Linked DNA regions of Homo sapiens: region 2 is linked to region 1. Evidence: fine-mapped expression QTL. A gene starts in region 1. The other region holds a variant in brackets. All regions are shown on one strand. Distances are from middle to middle. Region 1 holds the start of POLB (DNA polymerase beta). Region 2 overlaps IKBKB (inhibitor of nuclear factor kappa B kinase subunit beta).

Region 1 (2,914 bases):
TGGTTTTGCTTTTAAGAGCTGAGGGACTTGCACATATTTATAGGCTAAGGAGAGCTGACACCGAGGCTGATGCCTGGAATCCCAGCACTCTGGGAGACCAAGGTGTGTGGACCATTTGAGTTTAGGAGTTGGAGATCAGCCTGGGCAACATAGCAAAACCCGGTCTCTACAAAAAAAAAAAGAAAAAAAAAGAAAGAAAAAAAAATTAGCTGGGTGTGGTGGCGTGCGCCTGTAGTAGTCCCAGCCACTCAGGAGGCTGAGATGGGAAGATCACTTGAGGCTGGAAGGTTGAAGCTGCAATGAGCCATGATCATACCACAGCGAGACCCCGTCTCAAATAAAAATAAATAAATAAATAAATATAGGCTAAGGAGTAGAAGCAGGTGGATGTGGAAAGAATGAATAGGATAAGGCCCCTGGTGAGATGAACAAGGACAGGATCCCATGAACAAGGAACAAGGATCAGGATCAGGATCCCACAGGATCAACTTTAGACCAACCAAAAGAAAAAATGTGATTCCTTGAACCACATATATTTCACAGTATGGACTTCATCCGCTGTCTTTCATTACGGTTAAAATTACACCGCATTTCTAGTAATTCATGTTTGATGATGACAAAATACGTATCAGGCTACAGCTATCTGCAATCAGAATTGGGAACTTATCTGAACTGATCCTATAACGCACTGCCCACATTCTTCAAGAAATAGTAAGGTACCAGCCTCGATTCTTGCTTTTTCCCGCTCTTGCAGATGGACCAAATATCCACTGGGCCCTCAGTCCTGTTAATTGCCACACTAAACAGGGTATCCCAGAACGTATGCTACCCGAGAATGCTGCACTGTCCCACCTGTAAGCATTGTACTTGTGGATAGCTTGGCTCACGTTCTTCTCAAAGTTTGCGAGTTCTGAAAGGCAACAGAAGGCTCGGGTGAACAAGAACCACGAGTAAACAAACGAGAACTGTTTTCTGGAAGGGGATATGGCAGCCTCTAAGAGACAGTGACCACCCGTTTCCTCCAAGGGCCAGACCAAAAGCAGCCCAAGCGATGGCCCAGGTGTAGCCGGCAGGACTGACAACCAGCCAGGGGCGCCGGAGGGAGATCCCCACGGAAGACGACCCGCTGCAAGGAACCTACCCTACCCACTGGACTGTCGGTGTGGGAGAGAAGGAAGGCAGGGGAAGAGGCTGGAAGGAAAGAAGAAAGCCAGCGGGGCCCGGCCCGGTGCTAACCTGTGAGCATGTCGGTGATTCCCCCGTTGAGAGTCTCCTGCGGCGCCTTCCGTTTGCTCATGGCGGCCTGCACCCGAGAACCCCAGAGTGTTCAGAACCAGGGACTAGAGCCCTCTCCCAGCTTGAAGGAGGTACCAGGACTTGGAGACGGGAGCAGGAGCAACCCAGCTCCGGCGCGACCGGCGGAACAATGGTTGCCCCCGATGGGGGGCGGGGCGCACGGCGCTTGTTGTGACGTCACGCGTCCTGGGCGGGGCGGGGCGGGGCTAGAGGGGCGAGCCCTCGGCAGGTGAGGAGAGAGAACTCGGAGGGTTCGTGGACTCGTGGACGTGGACACGGCGCGGGGGAAATAGGCACCTCAGAATGACAGCCCAGGGGCCTTCCTATGGGAAGACCTGGAGTTTTGACCTAAGATATTAAATCTGTTTTCTCAGTGTTTATCTGGAATCCTTTCCCTAGAAGGGGAAACGGGAGTGCGATCTTGATTCTGAAATACTTGCGCTGGTGGGGTAGCTTCCTGCACAAAAATGTGCACTGTAATAGCTACCCAATGCATGGCGCGTTTTGTACGTGGTTAGAGGCGACACTGGCGTCACACTGTCAAAACTTTCTCTAAGGATACCGGGCAGTCCACACTCCAGTGCAGCCCCTTACGTACTAGGGCGCTGCCGGAGCCCGGCGTGAACCATGCCGAGAACAGGAATCCTCCCGCACACGTGTTAGTACACCTGCCAACCAGTGTCAAAAGATATTTTATTTTTAATCCCCCTGCCTTTGCGGTAGGGACCAAATTAATGAAGAGACCACAAGAAAGGGAGAAGTGTTTCATCTAGATCATGAGCAATGGAACCCTAATTATAACATGATGACCTACATCTGAGAAATTTACAGTCTGCTTGAGAAATGGAAATGTCACATCAGCAATAGTTTATTTTACAAGCGTAACTCCTGGGTTCATATCGAACTGCAATTCCAGGCAATTGCTTTGTGCATCGAAAAATTAAAATTTATTACAAAATGATACGTAGTTGCTGTAGAGAAATCTGGAAAAATGTATAAAAGGAGAAAATTAAAATCAGTGATCTCACCCTACAGCTGAACTATTAATATTTTGGGACGTACACTTCTAGTCTTCTAACCCAGTCTATTAAAAATTCCCATTATTTTCCAATAAATATCATTAGTTTCTTTGATTAGCAAGGTTGTGGTGATTGTGTTTCCTTACAATATCAGTGTATATCTTAAGTTATGCTTATTGGAAATCTGTAATTCTTCTTTTTTTGAATTTCCTATTCATATCATTTACCATTTTCCTAATGGGGGTAGTTTGTTACTAATCTGGTAGATCTTTTCTATATATTACTACTTGCCCTTTTATGGATAGCTTTTGTAAAAATTTTGTACATATTTGTATTTTCCTCAATTTATTACTTGAGGAATAAAAGTTAAAAAAACTTTATGCCTGCAACTTAACTATCTGATTAGTTAAGCTGCAGTGAGCAGTGACCACTCTCATTTACTCTTTATACTCTCATTTACATATATGACTTGTCCTAGTTTTCCCTGTTCACACTTTTTTCTGTCCAATCTCTATTCCAGGTGATATTCAGATTATTTTGCTCTGAAGAATTATTCCTCCTTAAATAAAAATGTATTTACCTCTGAATTTTAAAAGTTA
Region 2 (2,914 bases), 61 kb after region 1:
TCCTTCTTCTGCAGACAAGATGCAGTGCATGGAGTGTCAGGAAAGTGCACACTGTTGTTACGTGGAGTAAAACCATCAGAGTCAAGGAACCAACACCACCATAGCCCAGCTGCTTCTTTTAAGAGGCTGTGAACAGAGGGGTTCCCAACAGAGAACATACACGCTCATCTTCTGAACTTGGACAATGATCAAAGACTTCTCCTCAGCACCCAAAGCAGCCCTAGAGATTTCCCAAACTTGGGGAGAACCCACGGGGAAGGAAGGTAGAGAGCTTCCTGGCCTGGGCCGGGCTCACGGGTAGGCATCATTGAGGACCTGCAGGCACTCCACTCCTCCTGCTCCCCTCCACCTCTACTCCACCACTAAGCGCTGTTAATTCCACCCCTTAAATCTCTCTCTCTCTTTTTTTTTTTCTCAGACAGAGTTTCGCTCTTGTTGCCCAGGCTGGAGTGCAGTAGCACGATCTCGACTCACTGCAACCTCCACCTCCTGGGTTCAAGTAATTCTCCTGCCTCAGCCTCCTGAGTAGTTGGTATTACAGGCATGCGCCACCATGCCTGGCTAATTTTGTATTTTTAGTAGAGACGGGGTTTCTCCACGTTGGTCAGGCTGGTCTCGAACTCCCAACCTCAGGTGATCCACCTGCCTCTGCTCCCAAAGTGCTGGGATTACAGGCATGAGCCACTGCACCAGGCTAAATATCTCTTAAGTCTGCCCACCTCTCCCCATCTCTCACCTAGACGACTCCAAAACATTCAGACCTGGTCTGCCTGCATCACTGGGACGGAGCCAGTGACACTGTAGTAGCAGTCACTGAGAGCTGGTTGTTAACTACTCAGGAATCAGGCCGGAGCGGGCTATTAAACTACTGGTGGCTTGAAGTCAGCCCTGGTGGGAGTAGCTACTCCATGAGAACTGCTGCACACTATGGATCAAGGCATTTCTTCCGAGAGCTGATTTTTTCCCAGCACGCTGCCCACTGCTTGGGCCCTCCCAATCTGTCCCCATGGGCACAGCGCCTCCCTCTAACATCGTTCCACTGCTCCTCCATCAAAACAAAACCTCCTCGGCTGAAACTGCCCAAAAAACACCACAGGATCTGACTTGCACCGTCCACCCTCAGCCACCCAGGCACTTGTGCCCCATCCTCCCTTCCGGCCACGCTGGCCTTCAGTCTTGCCCACTTGCCACACCTGCCCTCCACAGAGGCCCCTCAGGAGCCTCTCCCTTGGCCTGGAACTCTCCT[C/T]CCACCTTCTCTGTCAAGCTGACTTCTACTAGGGCCTCAGTTCAAGTGTCACTTCCTTGGGGAACCTCCTCTGACACTGACTGATCCCACCCCAACGGAAGGTCTCAGTGCACTGGGTCCTTCTCCCAACTCACACTTTACCATACTTAGGAGCTTACATTTATAATTAGTTGACTAATGGCTCCTTCCCTTCTCCAAAGGTCTGCTTTAATTACCAATGTACACATAATAGACATTCGATAAATATTTGTGGACTGGCAGAGTGGATGATTTGGGGCACCTAGCACATATACAACGTCAGGCACTTGCTACAGGAGAACTGAAGGAACTCCAAAGGCCAGACCCAGCCCTGGCTGACCAGGAATGCAGGGTCCTGACAAGACTTACTCCACACGCAGACAGGAAGGGCGGCACAGGAACCAGCCCAGAGGAACTCACCGGGAGAACCAGTTGCCACAGAACAAAGCCATCCCAGACGCATATGAGGAGGAGATGGCCTAGAGTTGGTCCTGGAGGAATGTGGAGGAGGGGGAGGCCTGTCCGGCAAGAGGGCTCAGCGCTCAAAACAGAGGCAGCCAAGGGGAGGAATGATGGAGAGGCAGGTGCAGACAGACTGTGTGGGGTTCAGCCGGCAGGAGGAGGAAGCTGGCTTTTGGCTTTTTAAAAATAAATAACAGGCCAGGCGCCTGTTAGTGACTCATGCCTGTAATCCCAACACTTTGGGAGGCCAAGGTGGGCAGATCACTTGAGGTCAAGAGCTTGAGAACAGCCTGGCCAGCATGGTGAAACCCCGTGTCTACTAAAAATATAAAAACTAGCCAGGCATGGTGGCAGGTGCCTGTAATCCCAGCTACTTGGGAAGCTGAGACAGGAGAATCGCTTGAACACAGGAGGCAGAGGTTGCAGTGAGCCGAGATCAAGCCACTGCACTCCAGCCTGGGCAACAGAGCGTGACTCCGTTGCAAAAAAAAAAAAAAAAAAAATTAGCCACACGTGGCCGGGTGCGGTGGCTCACGCCTGTAATCCCAGCACTTTGGGAGGCCGAGCAGGCGGATCACAAGGTCAGGAGATTGAGACCGTCCTGGCTAACACAGTGAAACCCCATCTCTACTAAAAATACAAAAAAAAAATTAGTCGGGGGTGGTGGCAGGCGCCAGCAGTCCCAGCTACTTGGGAGGCTGAGGCAGGAGAATGGCATGAACCCGGGAGGCGGAGCTTGCAGTGACCCGAGATCACACCACTGCACTCCAGCTTGGGCGACAGAGCGAGACCCCGTCTCAAAAAAAAAAAAAAAAAAAAAAAATTAGCCGGGTGTGATGGCGCTGCCTGTAATCCCAGCTACTCAGGAGGCTGAGGCAGGAGAATCGCTTGAACCCAGGAGATAGAGGCTGCAGTGACCCGAGATCGCACCTGTCTCAGCTGAGAGTGAGACTGTCTCAAAAAAAAAAAAACAAGAAAACATACGGGAAGTGCTTCAGGGCATTGGTCTGGGAAAAGATTTTATGGATAAGACCTCAAAAGTACAGTTAACAGAGGCAAAAGTAGACAAATGAGATTACATCAAACTAAAAAGCTTCTGCACAGCAAAAGAAAAAACAGAATAAACCTATGGAACCTATGGAGACAACTTATGGAATGGGAGAAATTATTTGCAAACTATCCATCCAA

What was found. PIP is the estimated chance that this variant, and not a neighbour inherited with it, causes the effect.
Region 2: its variant is fine-mapped to the expression of POLB in testis (GTEx, PIP above 0.99).

What each region holds. Positions count from the first base shown.
Region 1 is chr8:42,337,008-42,339,921 of GRCh38, reverse strand. It overlaps POLB (DNA polymerase beta), which reads right to left and starts at 1,428. Exons shown (of 14, transcript NM_002690.3): 1 at 1,237-1,428; 2 at 853-910. The coding sequence starts at 1,297.
Region 2 is chr8:42,276,496-42,279,409 of GRCh38, reverse strand. All of the region lies in intron 2 of IKBKB (inhibitor of nuclear factor kappa B kinase subunit beta), which reads right to left. Among named protein-coding and RNA genes, the nearest start is that of IKBKB, 6.7 kb to the right of the region's middle. The variant C/T (reference allele first, on the strand shown) is at 1,247.